Linked DNA regions of Homo sapiens: all the other regions are linked to region 2. The links come from fine-mapping of genetic effects on gene expression. A gene starts in region 2. Each other region holds a variant in brackets. All regions are shown on one strand. Distances are between the middles of the regions.

The links.
Region 1: its variant is fine-mapped to the expression of SYT9-AS1 in subcutaneous fat (FUSION, PIP 0.95).
Region 3: its variant is fine-mapped to the expression of SYT9-AS1 in tibial nerve (GTEx, PIP 0.94).

Annotation. Positions count from the first base shown.
Region 1 is chr11:7,481,860-7,489,769 of GRCh38, reverse strand. OLFML1 (olfactomedin like 1) reads right to left here and starts at 4,264. Exons shown (of 3, transcript NM_198474.4): 1 at 3,766-4,264; 2 at 1,355-1,643. The coding sequence starts at 3,894. RefSeq lists an enhancer at 4,083-4,587. The variant C/T (reference allele first, on the strand shown) is at 3,215.
Region 2 is chr11:7,461,620-7,469,529 of GRCh38, reverse strand. SYT9-AS1 (SYT9 antisense RNA 1) reads left to right here and starts at 3,695. Exons shown (of 5, transcript NR_103855.1): 1 at 3,695-3,777. SYT9 (synaptotagmin 9) reads right to left here. Exons shown (of 7, transcript NM_175733.4): 7 at 487-2,738. The coding sequence ends at 2,730. RefSeq lists an enhancer at 1,549-1,608.
Region 3 is chr11:7,430,745-7,438,654 of GRCh38, reverse strand. The region is part of intron 6 of SYT9 (synaptotagmin 9); the gene reads right to left. It overlaps SYT9-AS1 (SYT9 antisense RNA 1), which reads left to right. Exons shown (of 5, transcript NR_103855.1): 5 at 1-1,028. Among named protein-coding and RNA genes, the nearest start is that of SYT9-AS1, 31 kb to the left of the region's middle. RefSeq lists an enhancer at 1,922-1,971. The variant G/C (reference allele first, on the strand shown) is at 4,892.

The DNA of each region.
Region 1 (7,910 bases), 20 kb before region 2:
CTCATCTCTCTCACTCATCATTTAGTTTTAATTAGCAGTCAGAAAGCCATGTGGATTCCAATTCTCAATGGCTCTCAAATCCACCTGTTCTCTGTCCCATGACACTTAATGCCAACACTATTACTTGTTGCCCAAATCATTGCAGCATTCCCTGACTGGTCTCCTCTCTCTAGTCTTAGCCTCTTCCTTCGTATCATGCCCTTGTTTAAAATTGCTCAATGGTTCTCTATAGTTTCTCCAGTGAGCTTCAACTTCCTTCATCTAGCATGCAAGGTCTCTCATTAACTGGGTCCTGCTGAGCTCTTCAACCTAGTTTCCCTACTGTCACCTCTCTAAAAAGCTTTCACTCAGCCATATTTGCGGGTCTACATGTCAAGGTGCTACAGTACCCTCATGCCTTTGGTATATTGTGCCCTGACTTGAAGTACCCTCTACTCATTCGTTTCTAACTTCTTTGTTCAAAACTGAGACCAAGTGTCACCTCATTTAGGAAGACCCTTTTCCTTATAGTGACCATGAAGTTCTTAGAAGGATTACATTGAGAAGGTATGTGAAACTTTTAGCACAATGATGGCACTCAGCTTATATGTCATTTCCCTGATGGAGGTTCTTGAATTGGAACAGACGTAATTAGCATGTAAATAAAGTCTTCCTATTTGCAATGAAAACATCTCAGAATACAAACCCTGAAGTGGGAGATTTGTCTCCCTCATTGTTTTAATGAAATAGACTCGGGCACAGAAAATTTTTCTTTGTCATTTGTGTGTTTATTGCCTGATACTGTTTATTATAATTTGAGCTGCTACACATTATTCTTAATGGCTTGGAAGTGATTCTGATGGATCACAAGATTAGACCACATCCCATGCATATCACCATCTCAGACAGCACACACAATAGTGATTCACTGCAGTTCCCATCCCTGAGGGTTGGCTGTTGCCATTTCCAATTTAAGACTGTTTCTTGGTACATTTGCAGATGCTATCTACAGCCTGGGTACTGGATGTAGAATCCACCAAACTGCTACTTTCCCTGAAAAAATCTGGGACCACACATCTCCACCAAACCAAGATTTATCAGGAGGTAGTCTCTTTGGGCTGACTTTTGGCACTATAGCCTTCACCATCTATGGAGGCTTTAGGCACTGTGTGTGAAAGAAAGAATGGCTTTGCGAGAATGGATTTCTCTTTGGACACCTGTTCTCTGTATAGCTTTCTCTCTCAGCAATGCACACAAAAGCACACCTCCAATTCTTACTCTCATTACTCTATGATGCTCCCTGACTGCTCTGAGTCTGTGTGTTTCTGAGCATAATAGTCCCTAGAAGGGCTAGGAAAAGATGCAGTTTTCTTACTTGCATTCAGCAGAGTCCGGATCTTTTTCTCTTCTTCAGCTTCTTGGAGCAACATTTCTGCCAGTGTCTTGTCCTCTGATTCGATGCACTCGTCAGCCTCTCGAAGGTATTGTATGTAGTCAATCTCCCGTTGGGCACGTTCAACTCTCAGTGCCAAGTTACCCACTGCACTCTTGTACTCACTTGTGTAGGTCTGACATCTTCCCAGCATGACAGATATATTTTTTGAGAACTCTTGGAATTCTTGAATGTATGCCCTCGTTGCTTGGGTACATTTTTCCAGCCCTTGCTTCAGTCAGAAAATAAATTTGCAAATTATTGCTTGTTATTTAAATTACCCAAATAATATAAATACCTATCATTTATAGAAAAGGATTAGAAAATTACACATCATCAAATAGGGGAAAAATTGAAATCTCCCATAATTCCTAAATTCAAAGGTAGTATTGATACTTGAGTATATCAGTTTTTAAAAGTTTTCCCAAGCATTTAGTCATACATATGTAAATATATATTTTTAAAATGTGATTTTACTATATGTTTTGTATCATCTTTTTCACTTGCAGATATATTGTGAACATACTTTGATACTAATTAAAGTATACCTATACCATAACTTTAATGAGAGCATTCCATTTAATTGATATCCCATTATTTATTCTGTTAGACTCTTTTTGAGGTACATTTACATAGTTTTTAATTTTTTGTCATTCAAACAATGCTGAGAAAAAAACTTTTTATTTACATCTTCATCAGATTATTAAGGGAAAAAAAAACCTTTGTATTTACATCTTCATCAGATTATTTTAAGGTAGATTTCCAGAATATCCGTCCCTAGCACTTGGCACAGGGCCAAGCACATAATACTATTCAATAAATATTTGCTGAACAAAAGAATAAATGAATGGAAATGGGATTGCTTGGTCAAAGAGAATGTCTACTTAAAGCTCATTTGGCATGGTTTATCAAAATTCTATCCACAAATGTAAAAATGTATGCTCCAAACAACAATACGTAAGGCTGTTTATTTTGAAGGGAGAAAGACAGAAAGAGAGACCCAAAATAATTCCCTAAATCCCTACCCTCTTTTTTCCTACCCCTCCGACACTGGCTTCTCAGGCTGGGAATGCTATCACTGTATTGTTAAGTGTCTGCGCTGGCCAACAGTGACTGCCACCTGCGACTTGGCTTCACCTCAGGTCAGGACTGGGGTGGGAAGATCTATACAGATCATATCCTTGTCTTTTTCAAATCCACATTCATAGCTATAAAAGGATCAGTCTGTACTTCATACCCTTGACAAGTTCTTAAGGTAGTGAAAGACAATTTGCAGGGATTTGGCTGGCTTTACTCCCAAGGCAAGTCGGTGCTAAATGCAGAGGGATCCTGACTGAGCATCATTCTGGCACTTCTAAGGAGGTGAGGCTCAGGAGGGAGCAAGTGAAGAAGCGCAAGAGGCCGCTCGTCTGGGAACACTTCATCCACTGCCTCCAGGCCCCAGCCTGTTGGCTGGACGCCCTTAGGAAATGCATTCGGCCTGCTATGTGGAATTACTTTACCCTGACTATAACTAGAAGAACATATAATTTGGACATGAAGATTTTTCAGGAAAATGTATAAAATAATTATTAGCAATAAGAGGGTCTTTGAAAGAAGATAAATAATTTATCAATTTAGCTTGTACAAAAGCAAGCCATTAAGTATGAATAATCAATGCCAGGGTGTGGCAAAGGCTAGGGTGGAGGGTTACATTTGTCCCTGGGAGCCTGTCCAGGCTGCCAAAATGTTGGGTTTTGCACATTTTAATGAGGTGGCAGCCCAAATGCATTCTTTCTGTTTAACTTGGCTGAAATCTGCTCA[C/T]TTCTAAGTCTAAATCCAGTTCAGCAAAAGAAACTAAGACTTCTCAGTACATTGATATCATGACTTTTTACAGTGACCTAATGGTTTATCATAAAAGACAAAACGAAAAGCTGAAATCCATTATCAGCCTGAAACACTAAAACATGAAGAAAAAGTAACCAACATTTTTAAGTTTCATATTTTAAAAAATGAACTATGGTGAATAATAACATTTTAGATACATACCATTATGCCAGGCAGTATTTTAGCTATGGATTAAATCTTCAGGATAGCCTTACAACATAAATTCTACTATTATCCCCATTTTACAGATGAGACAAACTGCCAAATCAGAGCACAAAGTGCAACTGTGCTTAAGGTCTGGAAGTAGCACACTGGACTCTGGAGTTCGGCTCTAAACTGCCAGACTATGAGCATTTTAAAGTGTAACTTTGGCAATGTGTCATTTGCTATCTGGGAAAAATACAACCCAGTAGATAGAGAAGCATGGGTAAAAATAAGGTACTTCTGGGAAGCCTGTTACTTATCCAAGGTGTACAGATGCCACCTACCTCCAAGACTCGAAAGCGCTGGTAGATGTAATGCACCATGGCTGGGTCCTGGGTACACTGCGGCGGGGGCAGAAAAGCTGCAAGGAACAGAACCAGCAATGCAGAAGCTCCTCGAAGGGCCACCATCATCCTGCAAAACACCAAGCAGGGCAGTCTCTTATGCTGTGGCTCTTCTCAAGGATGTCTCAAGGGCTCCGGTGGTGCTCTCCTGCTCTATCCGCTGCTGTGGCAAATCCTCTAAAAACAGCGTTTTGCACAGCAGAGAGCAAAGTCCGCTTGTTATTCCACCCGATACGTGAGCTCAGTTTGCCAGCTAGTGATCAAGTCCAGCTGTTGGCAAGTTGGTCCCTGAGGCCTTGTAGACTGACCTGTGGCAGAGAGCTCCCTGGGTCCAGCATCTGTTGCCCTCACCCTTGACACATGCGGACCCTCCCCAGGCTAGTGGTTGCAAGCTGCTTCCTGGCTTAATTGTGTGTGCATTGGGGTGGGGGGTGAAGATGGCTTCCCCCCGTTCCCTTCCCCCAGCTATTTCCTTTTTACTTTTGCTTTCCTCCTCCCTAGTGGATTCTGCAGTCCAATCGCAGGCCTTCCCCAACACAAACCACCCCCAACTTTTTAAAGTTGGACTCTCAGTTTAGTTTCTGGCAAAAATTCCCAGGATCCTTTTCCAGAAGTCCTATTGGGAGACCCCACCCCTCATCCAGACTCCCTTCACATTCCTGCAGCTCTTAAAGGCACAGCCAGGAAAAATAAACATGGATCTACCACTATCTCTGAACAGCCAGTGCACAGGGCTACATCGCCCCTTGGGCAGAAAGGTACAATGGGCTACAGGCCTGGCCATCCAGGCTGTCAGCTGAAACATCTCAGGATGGAGCTGAGAATAATTTGATTAAGAGGAACAACAACAATCATTGATACAGTGATGCTTCCAGGGTCAAGCCATCAAAAAGTGAAACGCCTTTGTAAGGAAATCCTTGAGTTTTCTCAATCACTGGAGGCAGAATTCCCTTCATGTAGCTGCAGGCCAGAAATATGTAGGACTAAACTCCTGCAGGCCCTGGTCCAATTGAAGATAAATTATAACCCTAGGACAAGGTGGTAAAATCTTTGAATTTGTCTGTGCAGTCCAGCCCTCTTCTTATCTCAACCTGCCTTTCCATGGGAAAGGCCAGGACGCCTTGGGGTTCTTTCTCAATCACCTGCCAAACTGAGAAAGGCTGGGGCATCTATGGAATGTGAAAAGAATGCTCTCCAGGAGTCAGAAGGCCTGTGTTTCCATTTGGTCCTCACAAGAGACGCTAATAGATACCTTTATCAAAACATTTCACGTACCCCATAAACACCTACTATGTATCCACAAAATTTTTTTAAAAGAGACACATAGACTGAGAATTTTCCACTGGTGGTCCTTAAACTTCCTTATGCCCGGTAATATTTCTCCCCACCCTTCTTCCATATGGCCACAGCTCCTAACTATTCCTCCTCACCCTCTCGGTAAAAATCCCAAACAGTAGTTCATCATCCTTAGAAACAATTCCTCATATTTCTTAGAACCATCTTTGCACTATTCCCTAAACCAGTTGAACTTCAGCTGACCCTGCCTCCTAAATCCTTATTAAAAATTCTGTCTGGCTCACGCTGCTTCTCCAAGTGAGAATATTCTCTCTGAAATTACTCATGCCTAGCATTTTTGAATAAAGTCTTAAGGGTGCTCTAGTTGATTTACTTCCACAAATGCCTCAAGTCCTAACTCTGAGACTGTGAACTAAGATGGATAAGGTCCAGTGGAGGAAAACTCTGATTGTATCTAATTAACTTTTCGGTGGTGGTGGTGTGGGTAGTTCTTTCCTGGGTTTTCTAGAGCATGCTTACATTACTTTTTCAATGAAATACACATGCCATACTTACAGAGTCTAAAGAATTACTGGAGAGTCTGTAAGGGGGAAATGCAGTGGGAAGCCTCGGTTGCAGCAGAAGTCCTTGAGGTGCTTTCAGGGCTGCTGTTGCTCTTATCTCTGTGGAGTGGGCTCCAAAGAGGTTGGCTCAGGACTGGCAGGCACCATCTCTGCCCACCAGTGATTCAGGCCCAGCACCACTTTCTCTGCGGTCACCACCTTCTTCAGAGGGACACTCCTGGCCTCTCAGCTCTGACTGCCCACACCTGGTCTTAACTGGAGAGCTTCATTTACTTTTTGTAATCCCAAACAGGGACAGCAAATCTCACAGCTGGAACCCATAACCCATTAGGATTGATGACCCATAGTTCAGAACCAGAGTGGAAACTCTCATATTCTCGTGACCAGAGGTTTCATAAAGAAAAACCAAACTCACTTTGGAGACAGACCCAGCCTTGACTCGCAGTGGCCTACTGAAGCCATCTTTATTAGAACAGTCCCTCCTCAGTGGGTGCCGGGTGGATAAGGGTGAAAAAGATGGCCTGCCGCACCTAGACCTGCAGCTGGACGAAATCAGTTAGCTCCACTGTCTTCATTACACGTAACCTCTGGCCTTGACCGTTGCTATTACTAGCCAGGACAGTGGACAAGCACAGTGACTTCTCTTTTCTCCTCTGCAAGTGTCTGATCCTTCCGCTTTTCTACCCCGGTATCCTGAGAGGGGAAATAAGCTCCTTTATATCCACCACTATTTCCTCTGTGTGGTTGGATCCAGGTGACTGGTCCTTAATCTATAAGCCAGGCCTGAGCTGACTGTTTTCTCTAAATGAGAAGGAGCCGGATATATCAATTCTCTCATCCCAGTTAGCCCCCTGAAGCTGATCACATCCAGATCTCCAGTTCCTTTTGGAAATTTTTGCTGCCTTCATCCCTCTTGGCTCCATTTGCTGCTGTGCCTCCACGTTAACCGACCTTCTGATATCTAGAGCCTTCTCTGCTTCCAGTACTCCCTCACTTTGCTGAGAGATGCTAGTCAACTCCAGCAAAGTCTGGAGGAGACTTTGCCTTTTTGAGGATGCAGAACCCCAGTCAACAGAATCCCTTCTGGGATATTGGAATTCGTCATTTAGATATGAACAGGATGCCTCCTCCTTCTGTTTTTTTTTCTCTTTGCCTCTATTTTTCCCTTTATCTTTTGCTTGTCATACCTCTCCTGCTTCCCCCTTCCTGATAGTTATTTGCTGTAAGTCATCTTCAAATCTTCCAACCTTTTACCAAGTTAATTGCATTGTTTCCTGCATGAGTGATTGGAACAGCCTCTAATTCCCTATCTTCATCTCTTTAGATAAAGTGTTGGCTGATTTTATGCCAAAATGAAAGCTTTTTACCGTATAACCTCGGTCAACCTTTCTTCCTTCAACAATTGGCATCTACCACATTCATCCTCCACAACAGCCACATCTAATTGTCTCCAAGCTCCCCATGAAATTTAACATGTGGTATCTTTGCTTATGCAGTTTCCTCAGCCTGAAAGGTCTCTCCCCTTTGTAACTAGTGAATTCTTCAAGTCCTCCTGCCACCTATTTGACCCCATTCCAGGCAGAATAATACCTGTAACATGTTGAATCCTGAATCTTGGAAATTTGAGGGGAAGGCTAATCTGGGCATTGGTGCTTGGTGAGAGCTGTGGGCTTGCTGCCTCTGGGACAGACAGCACTGTGGAAGGGGAAAGAGAAGAAACATAGAACTATTAGGGGCTGAAGTGTGTTGCCCCCAGATTCATATGGTAGAGCCCTAACCCCCATGACTTCAAAATGTAATTATATTTGGAGTTAGGGTCTTCAAAAAGGTGTTTTAGTTAAAATGAGACAATCAGGGTGGACTTTAATGTGACTGGTGCCCTTATACAAAGAGGAAATTTGGACCAGGAATGTTAGTGCACAGAGAAAAGCCCATATGAGGACACAGCAAGAATGTGATCATCTGCTAGCCAAGGAGAGAGAGCACATAAGAAATGAAACCTGCCCACACCGTGATCTGGGACTTCTGGCTTTCAGAACCATGAGAAAGTAAAATTCTGTTGTTTAAGCTTCTAGTCTGTGGTATTTTGTTATGGCAGCCCAAGCAAACTAATACATATTATATCCCTAGTGTGTTCCAGGAACTGGGCTAGGCACTAGGGTTACAATGATGGACACAATAGACATATTTCTTACACCCTTAGAAGATGTAGTCTAGGCTGGGCGT
Region 2 (7,910 bases):
ATCCTCCCGCCTTGGCCTCCCAAAGTGCTGAGATTACAGGTGTGAGTCACTGCACCCAGCCCTAAATCATACCATTTAGAGTCATGATTGTTGGAGAATTTTGAAAACATCTGCATTGTAGAAACCTTTCCCCTCCCCTCCCTGACCCTTGCTCCTGTCATGTACCAGTGTACTTCCTGGACATCAAAGTGCCTGCTGCATATGTCCAACTCACTGGCTGGGAGGGTGCTTCAGCAGCAACACACATCAAGGGCAGGTCTCCTTGAAGCCAACAGAAGTAAGAGGAAGGGGCTGAGAATCAGTGCCAGTTGGGTGGGGGGACACCTGGCCTCTCCCTCTCTCGGCACCAGCTTTTCCCAAGGTCTGATCAGAATGTTTCCTTTCTACTGCCATGTCCATTTTTTCATGGTATTTTAATTTCCTTCTTTATCCTGGAAAAGACATTGGAGAATCCCCTTCCCCCAAGTTAAATAAGACAAGGTTGGAGTTTTTCAAAAGGAGCATTTACTAGGAAACTAAAGGGCAACCAAACAGAATGCAAGAGAACAGAGGCAGAGTTGCAAATGGGCTGAGGGAGTTCAAATTTATAACCAGCCTCTGCTCACAGCTGTACTGGCTAGGCAAAGCTTTCCAGACACAAAGCCACCTGCCTGCCATGTGGATAGTACTCTTTGCCTGCTTGCCCCTACAAAGCCACCTTCTATTTCATACCAATAAGCCAGTTGCATCCTCATTAGTATCCCAAGGCTGCTGGCTCTCTGGGCAGGAAGCTTCTGAGGTGGGGAACAGTAGGCACAGCTGCCTCAGGATCTCCAACCCAGGCTTCCATTGCCAAGGACATGTCAGAATTTATTGGGATTGCTGCCTGATATCTATTGGAGCCAGTCTGCTTTCTCTGGGACCATTCTTCTGGGCTCATCTGCCTAGCTTTACAGACAATATTTCTGCTAACTATCCTGGTGGCGCTAGCCCTTCATGTTTTGCTTCTAAACACTGGTATGGTGGAGGATGTCTGAATGAGGAGGGATGAGCAGAGGGGAACCTTGAGCAGAGGAAGCCAAGTTTTCCTTATGTCATCAGACATAGGCAGAACCTTGGATTCTCTTTGAATCCCAGTGGTTGGAAGCCAATCAGAGAAGTGAAGCTTGAATGTAATGACACTGCTTCCTACAAACAAAGGCCTATAGCCTTCTTAGATCTGCCATCAAAGTAGAGCTTCTTGTATAGTACTAGGCAGCTGGGGCAATGAGAACTTTCTGAAGACGTATAACGATCCTTCCTCCGCCCAGTTAGTTCCATGCTGAAATGTTAATTCAAACAGAGATAATGAGCTTTCCAGGAAGGTAAACTACAATCCAACTCTGGATTCTGCTGTAAAGAGATTGTGTGAAAAGAAAAATACTATCTTGGAGTAGTGGTGCAAATGTGTGGATGGGGTGCCTTGCACCTATAATGGGACAGAGAGGACCATTAGGTAACAGCCCCCAGTCCTCCCAGGATATGCTGAGGCCTTTGGTTTCATTTACGTGGAGGCAGAAGCAATGAGGATGAGGCGCATAGCTGGCCATTGGTTGGCAGACTTGGTCAGGAAGGAAGCTGAGTAATGAATGAGATGCCTGGGGAGGGCCCTTGACCTTCACTCTTGTAGGTATTTCCATCCCCAAGTGGTGTGAAAGTGATGTATGTGTCTGAAGTGAGAAGGAAACCTCTATGTGTGGTTGCCCAAGGCTATGACTCTGGGCTGTTGCATATGGAAATACCCCAGAAGGCATTCAGGCCAGAGAAGCCCAAAAGCTGTGCCTTTCTATAGGGGATGGCTGTGTTCTCTCTCCATGATCTCATCTCACCCATTGCTGTACCAGTTTCTGAGGCTGTTCCCTTAGTGGACGAATGTGCCTAGGAAAGGATATTCCACAATGCTCATGCCACTGAGATGTATGCCCTTCTAACTAATTACTTTTCATTCTAATAACACTCCCAGTTGAAAGGAAGGGGCTGCTAGCTACTGAGTGAGTAGTGTTGGGGGTCTCTGATTCCTCAAAATCTGGTTTTAGCAGAAAACAGGGCCATGTTGATACTGGTACTCTCTACCACGTGCATGGGAGGAGGCAGTGAATTTGCTGTGAACTAGCCCTCCTTGCATTAGATTTTTTCCAGGGAACAGCCTGCTTGTCTTGGTATTCTCTTGGGGCTATTCCTTGCAAATCTGGAGCACTTCTTGGGGCACAGTTATTTTCTGGAGACAGTCATTAGCTCAAAGGTAGTCATGTGTGAATTGAGATCTGCTGCCTATTTAGCACCTGGATATATTTTTAAATATTCTGTCCTTCCAGGGCATTCTAGAAAATAATATTATGTTGGAATAACGATTTCCAGGGCAGATGCTATGTCCTCATCACCAAGGGCTTCATATGAAACATTGAGTCCTGGTACTCTTGGTACTGTCACTATATCTATCATTTGTTTTTGTTCATAGTCCGATCTTGGTTCTTGGCATGAGAGACATGCTTCCCTGCAGCACATCACCTTGGGCCACCTGCAGAAGGTGGCTGGACCATTCAGGTTCACCAAACCCAATCTGGAAAGAAGGCCAGTTAGTGCTGTGGTTACAGCTGAGCATTTGGTCACTGAAATCGTCTGGATGTTGCTGGATGGAAAAAGTTACTTAAGATCTTTGTGAGATGGTTGTCCTATTTTGTCCTTGGCACAAGCAGTCCTCTTACCCATGGTCATCGTTTCTGCAGGAAGAAAAAACAAAAAAATAATTTGGCTTTCATTCATACATTTTTTTTCTTTTTTTTTTTTTTTTGAGACAGAGTCTTGCTCTGTCACCCAGGCTGGAGTGCAGTGGCGCGATCTTGGCTCACTGCAACCTCCGCCTCCTGGGTTCAAGCAATTCTCCTGCCTCAGCCTCCCAAGTAGCTGGGATTACAGGTGCCCGCCGCCACACCTGGCTAATTTTTGTATTTTTAGTAGAGACAGGGTGTCACCATGTTGGCCAGGCTGGGCTCGAACTCCTGACCTTGTGATCTGCCTGCCTCGGCCTCCCAAAGTGGTGGGATTACAGGCGTGAGTCACTGTGCCTGGCCCATTCATACATTTTTAATGTGCACCAAACAAGTGCCAGGCATGGTAATAGATGCTGGGGATACTAAGCCCATAAGTAGGACACTCCCCCTGCTTTCAAAGGGCTCACAGATGGAGATATTATGATGTGAGAAGCTGCATAGAATACTGCAGGGGCAATGGGAAGGGAGAAAGTAACTTCAAAGGGATTGAGGAGGTCTATAGAGAGCATTCTGATTGATGAGTCTTGAGCTAAGCCATTTAGGCTGAAGAGGAATCCCTCTGGAAAGAAGAAGGGTCACTTGGGGTAGAGGAAAGAGACTGTGCAAAGGCAGAATGCAATAAAGGGCATGGTGCATTGAAGGAATCATCACAATTTGGTGTGACTGGACTGTAGTGTGAGGAATGAAGTGGTCGGAGGTAAGGCTGGTGATATGATTTAGTTGTGCCCCCACCCAAATCTCAACTTGAGTTGTACCTCCCAGACTTCCCACGTGTTGTGGGAAGGGACCCGGCAGGGGAGGTAATTGAATCATGGGGGCCGGTCTTCCCCGTGCTGTTCTTGTGATAGTGAATAAGTCTCACGAGATCTGATGGGTTTATCAGGGGTTTCTGCTTTTGCTTCTTCCTCATTTTCTCTTGCTGCTGCCATGTAAGAAGTGCCTTTTGCCTCCTGCCATGATTCTGAGGCCTCCCCAGCCATGTGGAACTGTAAGTCCAGTTAAACCTCTTTTTCTTCCCACTCTCGGATATGTCTTTGTCAGCAGCGTGAAAATGGACTAATACAGCTGGGATGGAAAGATGAGGTCTGAGTGGTGCAACATCATTCCTTGTTTCCGAGATGTGAAGGAGGGGCTCTCTTAAGGAAGCCCCAGACTTAGACTAGCAGTATCTCTTGTGTTTCACACTCAGCCCAGCATTCAACTTAATTTAAACTCAGGGCACCTTCCAGCACAGATTAAATGTAGTAATACTGTGGCCATAGAGAGAAAAAACTGAAGTGACTTCTATGGATATAGGAATAACAAAATTTACACGTAAACTATAAAAGAGTAGCAACCATTCTGACAATGAAATTTATGGACTTCATTTCAGAGATCAAAAGTTCACATGTGAGGCTATAACTTACTTAAGGAAAGTATTAAAAGCCAGTGTGTTCACTGCAAAGGGAAACCACGTTTGATTGTGACCCGTGGCTTTGAAGTGTGTGCATGTGTGTGGGCACACACACACATCTCTGGGAAAGGGGTCTTTGTTTCTGTGTCTAGGAAGAAAGACTGAATGATATTTGTCTTAATATTGTGGTTCAAATATCAGTTTGCCAGATCAGCTGCTACCCTGGAGCACCATCCAAATAGCTCTACTTTCGTTTTTTTTGAGATGGAGTCTTGCTCTGTCCCCAGGCTGGAGTGCAGTGGCGCAATCTCGACTCACTGCAAGCTCCACCTCCCGGGTTCATGCCATTCTCCTGCCTCAGCCTCCTGAGTAGCTGGGACTACAGGCGCCCGCCACCACGCCCGGCTAATTTTTTTTTTTTGTATTTTTAGTAGAGACGGGGTTTCACTGTGTTAGCCATGATGGTCTTGATCTCCTGACCTCGTGATCCGCCCGCCTCGGCCTCCCAAAGTACTGGGATTACAGGCGTGAGCCACCGCGCCTGGCCCCGAATAGCTCTACTTTCTAAGCCACCATCTACATCAGGCCCGTGGTTCCCTAGCCGCTCTTTCAACTGTGAAACCCATACCCATATCAGTTTGCCAATTCCTGAGTTCCTTCCCATCAGAGAAAGCAAATTGTTAACAGGCTCAGTGTCACCAATGAATGTGGTCTGGAATTAGTTGTGATGGTATCAGCCCATATTCCTTCATTTTTGGGTACTTATTGTATGCCAGGCACTGGGATATGGACTTTACAAGTTCTTAAAAGACCCCGTGGGGTTCTTTAATGGAGGATGCAGCGTTGTAGAGACACTAATTTGCACAAGGCCACACTGTGACTAAGTGTCAGAGCTGAGATTTAAACCCAAGACTTCCAATTTCAAAGTCCAAGCTTTAGCAATTATGTCAATTCCCTCTGTAGGTCCAGTCTACATTTCTGATGTATTAAAAGTACTTTATCTGCCTTGGCTTTCTAGACTCCCTAAATCTAGCCAGATGAGCTTCCTTTAAGAACCCTAGTCCAAACTAGTAGCATACAGCAGGTGCCACATCCCACTTATGGTTTCCTAGCTGCTTATCCCATTTCTCTGGATTCCCCCAGCTAGTGACATGCATATGTATCTTGTTTGCCCCCACAGTTCTGTGCACAACCTCATTTTTCCCTATTATGACCTAATTTTACCTCTTCATTTAAGCAGTTCCTTCAGAATGCTTTGGGTTTAGCTCTCCCAAAGTACCCAGCCTTAGGGACCACCTCTGTACCTGATTTCTTATGGCCTGTCTAAAGCCTGCTTAGAGGGCTAGGCTGCAACCTTAGCCAATTTTTTTTACCAGTCCCCATACCCAGGGATACCACTAGCATTGGCATTGTTGCCAATGGCCAAGTCATAGCACAGCTCCCACCTGAACTCCATAGCTGGGTTTTGCTCATTTGGTGAATTTCCTTGTGTGTGTAATTAGCCAGAATCAAGGTCAGCCTCTGGAAATACGGCGGTGCAGCCTACTGGTCTCCCCCTTCTTAAGGTGCAGCCCTTCACTTGGGTGAGTTTTCTGGGCTCTGAATCTTTTCCTCTTCTGGACAGCGCCACTAAGGTCCTAGAATGCTTGTGAGCTGGGACCAAGCCCACAAGATGACAGGATTAAGGAGTTTCAATACATCTGGTGTCGTGATAGGGTCATTGCTACCAGCAATATTGCAAGAAAAGCCTCTTGAAAACAAACTTATTCTAGGGAAAGTCAAGCATACAAGTCAGTTCTGAAAAAGTTGTCTCAGGAGAAGACATGAGTAAATTTTGCTGTTGTTGTTCAGCCCCCTTTTGTCTGGCTTCTGTTGGGGGAAGACTAGAAAATCTCAACCAAATCAAACAAAATAAGCAAATTACACCTTTCCAAACTCCTATAACCTAGTGAGCTGTTTTTCAGCCAAAAATTGTATAAAACAAAATGTGAGAAAAGAAAGATTTTTCCATAATTCAGAAAAGCATTGACCCAGTGGGATTTTGTTGAGAGGAAGGTGGTAGAGACTCAGTCATCAACACCGGAGACAGTAACGGTGGTTTAATAACTGTTGAGCATAATGCTAGCTTGGCTGGTTCCAGTGCTGGTGCCAGCCCCATTTCCATGGGCAGAAGCAGCAGTGTCCTTGTTATGAGACCTGGTGGGCTCCCAGGCAGTACCAGGGGTTTAGAAGGTACCAACAACTCCAGTAGTATCAACAGGAAGTAGTGGTTACAATCCTATCTGAACAGAGAAGATTGTAAGTGAATTCAATTGTCCTGAGACATAAGGATCTAATTTGAATTAAATTGAATTGAAACCAAAGATGAGAACTGTCCTAATGAAAACTGTAATGTGAAGTGACATTTCGATCACAAAAATGACAGCTGATATGAGACAGGCCATTGAAACAGACCCCAAATTAAGAACATGAAAAGACAGAGTGAAACATTAGATAATATCTCTCTGTGAATCTGAAAATGGGACTTTATTACAGGAAGTACCTAAGGGCTCTGAACTAAGAAGCTTGTCAAAAATGGAAGTGATTCTTATTACATGATTTAATCTTATTATGTACTTAATATTGTTAAATTTACATTTAAAATTTTATTTAAAAAGCACAAAAATCTCAGGATTTTGTTGACTATTTATTGCTTACCACAGCTTTGCAAATATATGAAGATTCATCATGCTCTGCTGGTTTAGAATCTGATTTTGTTGACTGTTGCTTAGCACAGCTTTACAAATATATGAAAAATTATCACGCGCTGCCAGTTTACAATCTGATTAGCTTCTTTCTGTAAAGAGGACATTCTATTTTTTTTTTACTTCCTCTCTCGGCTTTAAGAACAAGTATGTTAAAGAAATAAAGCAGTATGAATGTGACTATACTGCCTTTCAGGAGATTGGGCCAGTAGCATGGAAAAATGAAAGGGTCCATTTGGGCAACAACTACTATTTATTGAGTGCTTAAGCACTAGCTCTATCCTAAGAGCTTTGCATACCTTATCTCATTCATGCCTCACCTTAACCCTCTGTGATAGATATTACAATTACAGTTTCACAGTGAGGTAACTGAGTCTGAAAAAGGCCAAATAATAAAGGTAGTAAATGGCAGAGCCAGAATCTGCCACCATGCTTTTATGGATTAAAATGTATGCTCTTAAGTGCTATGCCCAGAATGGTAAATTATTGTGCTTTGAATGGTAACTCCACTACAGCACCTTTCTAGAAAGGATTCTTAGTCCAGAAATGAATTCTGAACAGTCCAGACTTCACAGGAGAGTGTGTTAAGATTCACCGTCAAGTAGACCTTGAGGGGAAAGGTGGCAAATGGTGCGTGGCATGTGTGACATGTAGATTGTTATTTACTGAGAGGGGCTCATTAGAAACAATCAAGAAGCAAAGGCTACAGTGAAGGCACCATTCAGAAGGTAAGACAAGGACTGTCATATTTTTCGATGAGGTGGCAAGATAGGAAATTACTATAGGGCCAAAATTACTCTACCTGATGAAGTAAAGTGGAGGATGTTTGGAGTCTGTTACTTCAAATTAATATTCATTACATGTATTCATCATTCAACAAACATTTATTGAGCACCGGGCATTTGTGCTGAGCCCTAAGAAAACAAAGTTATGCTCAGCGCTGTGGCTCACGCCTGTAATCCCAGCACTTTGGAAGGCCAAGGC
Region 3 (7,910 bases), 31 kb after region 2:
GAAAAAAGGGGCCCTTTCAAGGCTGAGCCAGGTTGGAAGAGGGCAGAGCTGCTTCCAGGACACCAGAGAGTGCAGCAAGTATGCAGAGAAAACCTGGGCACCAAGAGACCTGGGAGAGAGGAGGCAGATGGGTGGGCCAAAGTTCTGGTAGTTGGGAAAGGTGATAGAAAGCACTGCATTAATGCTGGGTCCTCTGCCCTTGTACTAAGAGCAGCACATGGCTGCCTCTGAATCCTGCCCATGGAGTAACATTTGCTTCCATATGCCACAAAGATGAGATGGGGCCCTGATGTGCCTGTTATAGGAGGGCAGAGCATCCTGTGTGCTCTGTGAGAAGAGCTGGGCCACGTATCTCCAGGTCAAAGCCCGCACAGCAGTTATCCCCTCCCTCTCTTGTATCTTCAACCTTTCCTTTCCTATTGGGAAGGATTTCCGTATTTCCAAGAGCCTGCTCAAGTGGGGTCAGCATGTGTCTCTGGTCACCACCCTCTCCCCTGTGGAAGGCTGACAACTCTCCCATCTATACAAAATTTGAAACCACCAATTATATGATTGACACTATTACACTGGAACAATTTCCTGTCAGACTCCCCCACCAGACTCTTTACAGGCCGGTGCTTCATCTACATCTCTCTGTCCACAGCACTTGGTGTAGTATTCGCAACCTAGCAGGAATGAAAGAGTCCGTGTGGAGTCAAGCACCTCAGGGAACCCCTTGAAAGCAGTGACACATACCTCCAACAAGAATTGCCTCTTCCTTCCTTCTGTGGCTTTGCACAGCATTTTTCTTTAATTATAAACACAGTTGGTCTCTCTATGCTGTTTAGGCTAAGCACAGCACAGCTTCAAACTGGAAGGTTAAATATTTGTGGTAAAAATAACTTATTTGTGCCCATGCAAATGTGGCAACACAAACTCAGGCATGTAGTGTTCTATGCAGAGAAGCTAAAACCAAGGAATGACATTAATTTCCGGTGAAAATATGTGATGACAATCTTAGAATTCTGGCTTTTCAGAAAAAAAAAAAATCACTCTAGAGGGTCCTAAAAATATGGGCAGTTGGTGATGAGTCCATATTCCTTCTTATCACTCCCACACTGGATCCAAATACAGTGGTCGTTTTCAAAGTGCATATCACACAGTGTTTATTGAATCCATAATGGGCAGTGGCCCATTATGGGTTTGTGAAATTAATTTAATGATTGTGACCAGTAGTCTATTTTTAATGAAAAAAAATTAAAAAGTGCATCACGTTATGTTTATTAATTTCGTGAAACTTTTGTTTCAGTTTTATATCTATGTCCATGTCATGACTGAAATGTATATCTAAATGTGAATCAATGCCAAGAACATTTGTGGCACACTGCTCCCTTCCATGTAGAACTGGGGACTTATTGAAATACTGTGCTACACCTTACATTCTTAACACTAAAGTCTTTGTGAAGCACTGGAAATTCCAAGAGCCAGAGAAATGAGAAACTTAGGCTATCTCTGGAAAAGTTATCCTTATTTAAGCACTACAATAGAACAATAAAAAATAAGCTACTGGAAAGCCTGGGTAGAGTTACAGTTTCCCAGAATCTTAATTGGCTGCAGAAAGGAAACAAACACTTGTCCAGCGTCTTTCACTGCTTTCACCAGATATTATGCTAGGTGCTTTCAGGTATGTTGTATCATTTAATCATCCTCACACAGTTATCTAAAACTAGCTACTGATATCCCCATTTTACAGAAGAGGAAATGAATCCTCAGAGAGATGAGATAATTTGCTCAAGCTCAGCAGCTCGAAGTGGCTGAGCTGTAATTAGGTTCCTCTTCCTGTTAGACACTAGTAACAACAGCACAGCTGAGGTCGTCCACCAGGAAGTTGAGCTGGGTCACGTCTTCCTCTTTGATTAAATGATTTTGCTCTCCTCAATTTGTCTGCTTCGATCACAGTAGCTCTTGCATTTATCTGTTTTAGACCTTCAACTTTCAAATTAGATTTGACTTCATCAAAGAATTTGGCCAAAAACAAACAAACAAACAAACAAAAAAACCAACTGGACACCACTGTATTAAACAAGTAATTTAAGTCTTTGTGTGTATGCTTAAGTTTGCTAAGAGCTCTTACATTTGTACATATACATGCATATAAACAGCATATTACAAATAATCTAGAAACATATAGGAGCACCATGGACCCTCAGTCTGAGATCCGACTAAGCAACTTCTCATTTTACAATTCAAATGCAAATCCATGTTAATCCTACTGAAGATACTGTCCCCACTTTCCCTCCCTCCAAGGCCACCAAATTCCTTTCCCTGTGGCTGGCTGCTGCACCAACACTTCTCTCCCTTTTCCTAACCTGCTCTTTCTTCAGTTTCTTTACTGCCTGGAAGGAACCTTATAGGTAACCTACTATCCTACCCACCTCAATAGCAAGCATGTCCTGCTCAGCAGCACAGAGCCTTAAAAACAGAGGCCACCTAATGTTCTCTTAGCATGGAGTGGATAGTGATGGTGGAAGGGCTCAGTCCTTAAATTCCAAGCCCTCCTCTCTAAAATTGGAATGGGTGAAGTCCTGAATCTGGCCCAGATCTGTTTCTCCTATAATAGTCCTGGCTCACCATTATTCCCTGTCTCATGGAGTTCTCTTCTGGTCTTTTCAGCTGATTTTTTTTTTTCTTTTTCTAGATGAAGTCTGGCTCTGTTGCCCAGGCTGGAGTGCAATGGCACAGTCTCGGCTCACTGCAACCTCTGCCTCCTGGGTTCATGCAATTCTCCTGCCTCAGCTTCCCAAGTAGCTGGGATTACAGACATGCACCACCATGCCCAGCTAATTTTTGTATTTTTAGTACAAACAGGGTTTCACTATGTTAGTCGGGCTGATCTTGAACTCCTGACCTCAAGTGATCCACTCCCCGCAGCCTCCCAAAGTGCTGGGATTACAGGCGTGAGCCACTGCGCCCGGCCTTTCAGCTGATTTTCTAATCAAGAAGTTATATCAGTCTTTGTCTGCAGTTGCTCAAAGACTCTCTTTTAAAGTGCAGAGACTATCCACCTCAGCTATAGCACAGGGCTCAGCACTGTATTTCCAGTTATGGAATACAGTTATTTCATATATGTTATATTATTCTTAATTCTGTCCCTAGTTCCTGCTACTGAGGAAGTCCATACTCAGCAGGACAGTCTCCTGGTCTGCCATGAATTCAAACACAATCTGTAAAGACAGTGAAGGAAGCTACATCTGTGCATGGGGGCTTTAGAGAATTATTGGCTTGAAGCAATAAGAGGAACATCTGGGCTGAGTAGTCCTCGAAGACTCTCATGTGATTCAAAAGTCCTTTTCTTCCTTATTATTTCCTATCTTGCTCTCAAGCATCTCCTCTGGCAGCAGCAACTGGAACTAAAAGTGATTTCTCTATAACAGCGAGCAAGTTTCTCATGGCCTTTGCTATTAACTCTTTCATGCCTGCTGACCTGCAAAAGAATCAGGAGGGCTGGTGCTGGAGCAGATGGCGCACTGTGAGTGATGGTTTAGATTCTGCCTGGACTCAAACCATTTGGTTGATGGCGGGAACCTTGATTTTCCCCCTTCTTATCCTGAGAGTGTAGGGTTTCTCTGAATTATTATTTCTTTCTTTGCAAGGATCCCTGGATCCTCATTCCTGATATAAGACTAGTTCTAGGTAAGTGCACATTCATGTGATATATTGGTTCCATACTAGGCAATGGAAGTGCCACATTATCTGTAAGGAGCAGGAGAAGAGCCATTAGCCCCAGTCCTGGGAACGAACTTTCTGTAACTTTAAGAAACATAAAACTTTAAATGCAACTGAAAGATTATATTCTGTCACCTCCAACTACTCACCCATAAATACAATAGGCACCACGGAGGCTAGGATAAAGTGCAAATTTAAGATTATAAGTGTGCTTATAATAAATATTGACAACATCATGCCTTCAATGTTATCAATGTTGATGTCACCCTGCAGGCCCAAGGTAGAGAGGTAGAACTGCTCCGCTGGCTGCCCTGCCATACTTTGGGGTCATGTGATACGATCTTCCATAGCCACGGGGCCTTGGTTGTCAACTCATTCCTGAACTTTGTGTGCCAAAGTGAGTCCAGCTTCCACACCCTTCACCTCCACCACCAGGCTGATCCAGACTGCCAGGCTACGATCCTCCAAGCAGGATCCTACCTTGATCTTAAAAACTTCCTATGAAGAGCTCTACCATCATGTTTTCTAAAACCAGAAGCCCACCCTAATCCCTGCCTGGCTTTTGGTTCCTTCATTAGAGGCAATCACTGCCATAGAGAGCCCCACTCACTATCCCTCCATAGACGCCTTAGAACTAGGTTGGGAGCACGAGATGCTCAGCCTTTATATTTTGTTATCTTGAACCACATGGGAGTCTTTGAGGACTACCCAGCCCAGACATTTCTCTTATTACTGCAAGCCGATAATTCTCTAAAGCACCTAAGCACAGACGTAGCTTCCTTCACTGTCTTTACAGATTGTGTTTGAATTCATGGCACAGCAGAAGACTGTCCTGCTGTGTATGGAGTTCCTCAGTAGCAGGAACTAGGGACAGAATTGAGAATAGCACTAACACCAGAAATACAGTGCTGAGCCCTGTGCTGTAGCTGAGGTGGATGGTCTCTGACTCTGTGGGCCTCTCTGCAGCCAGTCCAATTCCTGTCTTTCTCTTGTGAATAAATGTTGCTGGCTCCAACTCAGCCTTATTTTTTGATGTGATTCTGACTCCAGTCATTAAGGGGGATGTCTTAGTCCTTTTGGGCTACTATAACAAAATATCTTAGATTGGATAATTTATAAATGACAGAAATTTATTGCTCACAGTCCTTGAGGCTGGAAAGTCCAAGATAAGGTGCTAGCTGATTTG[G/C]TGTCTGGTGAGTGCTAGCTCTCTGCCTCATGGATGGGGCCATCATTCTGTGTCCTCGTATGGTAGAAGGGGCAAACAAGTTTCCTTGGGCCTCTTTTATAAGGGCACTAATCCCATTCATGAAGGCAGAGCCCTCATAACCTAATTGTTTCCCATCTCTTAATACCAGCACATTGGGGATTAGGTTTCAACATATGAATTTTGGGAGGATGCAAGCACTCAGACCATAGCAGAGAGAGAATGCAGATAAAGCCCCAGCAAAAAGCACACGCAGATGTGGATGTATTTGGATCCACTTCTCCGTTCCCATTTCCAGGACTTCATTAAGCATTAATAACAGGAAGAAAAATTCAGAATGTTCATATTTTAAAATTTATAGTCAATCTTAATCCCTTTGGATGGTATTTACTTTCTTGATTGGTGTATTAGTCCATTCTTGCATTGGTATAAAGAAATATCCAAGACTGGATAATTTATAAAGAAAAGCAGATTAATTGGTTCACAGTTCTGCAGGCTATACAGGAAGCATGGCACTGACATCTGCTTGGCTTCTGGGGAGGTCTCAGGAAGCTTTTACTTATGGCAGAAGGCAAATAGGGAGCCAGTGTGGCAAATGGCAGAGCAGGAGCAAGGGGGGTGGAGGTGCCACACACTTTAAACCAGATCTTGCAAGAACTCCCTCACTAGCATGAGGGTAGCACCAAGCCATGAGGGATATTATCCAAACACTTCTCACCAGGTCCTGCCTCCAACATTAGGGTTCACAATTCAACATGAGATTTGGGCAGGGACAAATATTTAAACTATATAATTCCACCCCAGCCCCTCCCAAATCTCATGTTCTTCCCATATTGCAAAATACAACCATGTGTTCCCAATAATCCCCCAAAGTCTTAGGTCATTCCAGCATTAATTCAGAAGTTCAAAGTCCAAAGTCTCATCTGAGACAAGGTAAGTGCCTTCTACCCATGAGCCTGTAATATAAAAAATCAAGTCATTTACTTCTAAGATACAATAGAGGTACAAGCATTGGATAAACATTCCCACTCCAAAAGGGAGAAATTGACCAAAAGAAAGGGGCTAGAGGCTCCATGCAAGTTTTAAACCCTGCAGGGCAGTCATTAAATATATATATATATATATATATATATATATATATATATATATATATGTATATATATTTTTTTTTTTTTTTTTTTTTTTTTTTTTTTTTTTTGAGATGGAGTCTCACTCTTGTTGCCCAGGGTGGAGTGCAATGGCACAATCTCAGCTCACTGCAGCCTCTGCCTCCCACGTTCAAGCTATTCTCCTGCCTCAGCCTCCCGAGTAGCTGGGATTGAAGGCACCTGCCACCATGCCCAGCTAATTTTTGTATTTTTAGTAGAGACAGGGTTTCACCATGTTGTCCAGGCTGGTCTCGAACTCCTGACCTCAACTGATCCACCTGCCTTGGCCTCCCAAAGTGCTGGGATTACAGGCGTGAGCCACCATGCCCGATTGTTGTTAAATCTTAAAGCTCCAAAATAATCCTTGACTCTATGTCCCATATCCAGGACACACTGGTGCAAAGGGTGGGCCCCCAAGGCCTTGGGCAGCTCTGCCCCTATGGTTTTGCAGGGTTGGCCCCCAGGGATGCTCTCGTGAGCTAGGGTTGAATACCTGTGGCTTTTCCAGGCACAGGGTGCAAGCTGTCAGTGGATCTACCATTCTGAGGTCTGGGGGCTGGTGGCCCCCTTCTCATAGTTCCCTTAGACACTGCCCCTGTGGGGACTCTGTGTGGGACCTCCAATCCCACATTTTCCCTTAGCACTGCCCTAGTAGAGGTTCTCTGGGAGGGCTCAACCCCTGCAGCAGGCTTCTTCCTGGGCACTCAGGCTTTCTCATACACCCTCTGAAATCCAGGCAGAAGCTGCTAAACCTTCACTCTGGTACCCACAGTTAAGCACCTGCAGGCTTAATGCCACATGGAAGCTGCCCAAGCTTATGGCTTGCATTCTCTTAAGTAGCAGCTGGAGGTGGACCTGGGCCCCTTTGAGCCATGGCTAGAGCTGGAGCAGTAGGGATGTGGGGAGCAGTGTCCTGAGGCTGCACAGGGCCGTGGGGCCCTGGTCCTGGCCCACAAAACCATTCATCACTCTTAGGCCTCTGAACCTGTAATGAGAGGGGCTGCTGCCAAGGTCTCCGAAATGCCTTTGAGGTCTTTTTCCCATTGTCTTGGATGTTAGCACCTGGCTCCCTTTTAGTTATGCCAATATCTCTAGCAAGTGGTTCCTCCACAGCTTGCTTGAATTTCTGTCTTGAAAAGCTTTTTCTTTTACTGCCACACGGTAGGCTGCAAATTTTCCAAACTTTTACACTCTGCTTCTTGTTTAAATATAAGTTCCAACTTTAAGTCATTTCTTAGGCTGTCAGAAGCAGCCAGGCCACATCTGGAATGCTTTGCTGCTTAGAAATTTCTTCTGCCAGATACTCTAGATCATCACTCTCATGTGCAAACTCCCACAAATCCCTAAGGTATGGACACAATACAACCGAGTTCTTTGCTAAAGCATAACAAAGATGACCTTTGCTCTTGTTCCCAATAAGAGCCTCATTTCCATCTGAGGTCTCATCAGTCTGGACTTCACTGTCCATATTACTATCAGCATATTGGTCACAACCATTTAACCAGTCCCTAAGAGAGTTCCAAACTTTCTCTCATCTTTCTGTCTTCTTGTAAGCCCTCCAAACTCTTCCAACCTTTGTCCATTACCCAATTCCAAAGCTGCTCCCACATTTTCAAGTATCTTTATTGCAATACCCCACTTCACTTCTGGTACTGCTTTTCTTGCATTGCTATAAAGAAATACCTGGGACTGGGCAATTTATAAAGAAAGGAGGTTTAATTGGCTTATAGTTCTTCAGGCTGTACCAAAAGCATGGTACTGACATCTGCTTGGTTTCTGGTGGGGCCTCAGGAAGTTTTTACTCATGGCAGAAGGCAAAGGAGGAGCCAGCATCTCACTTGGCAGAGCAGAAG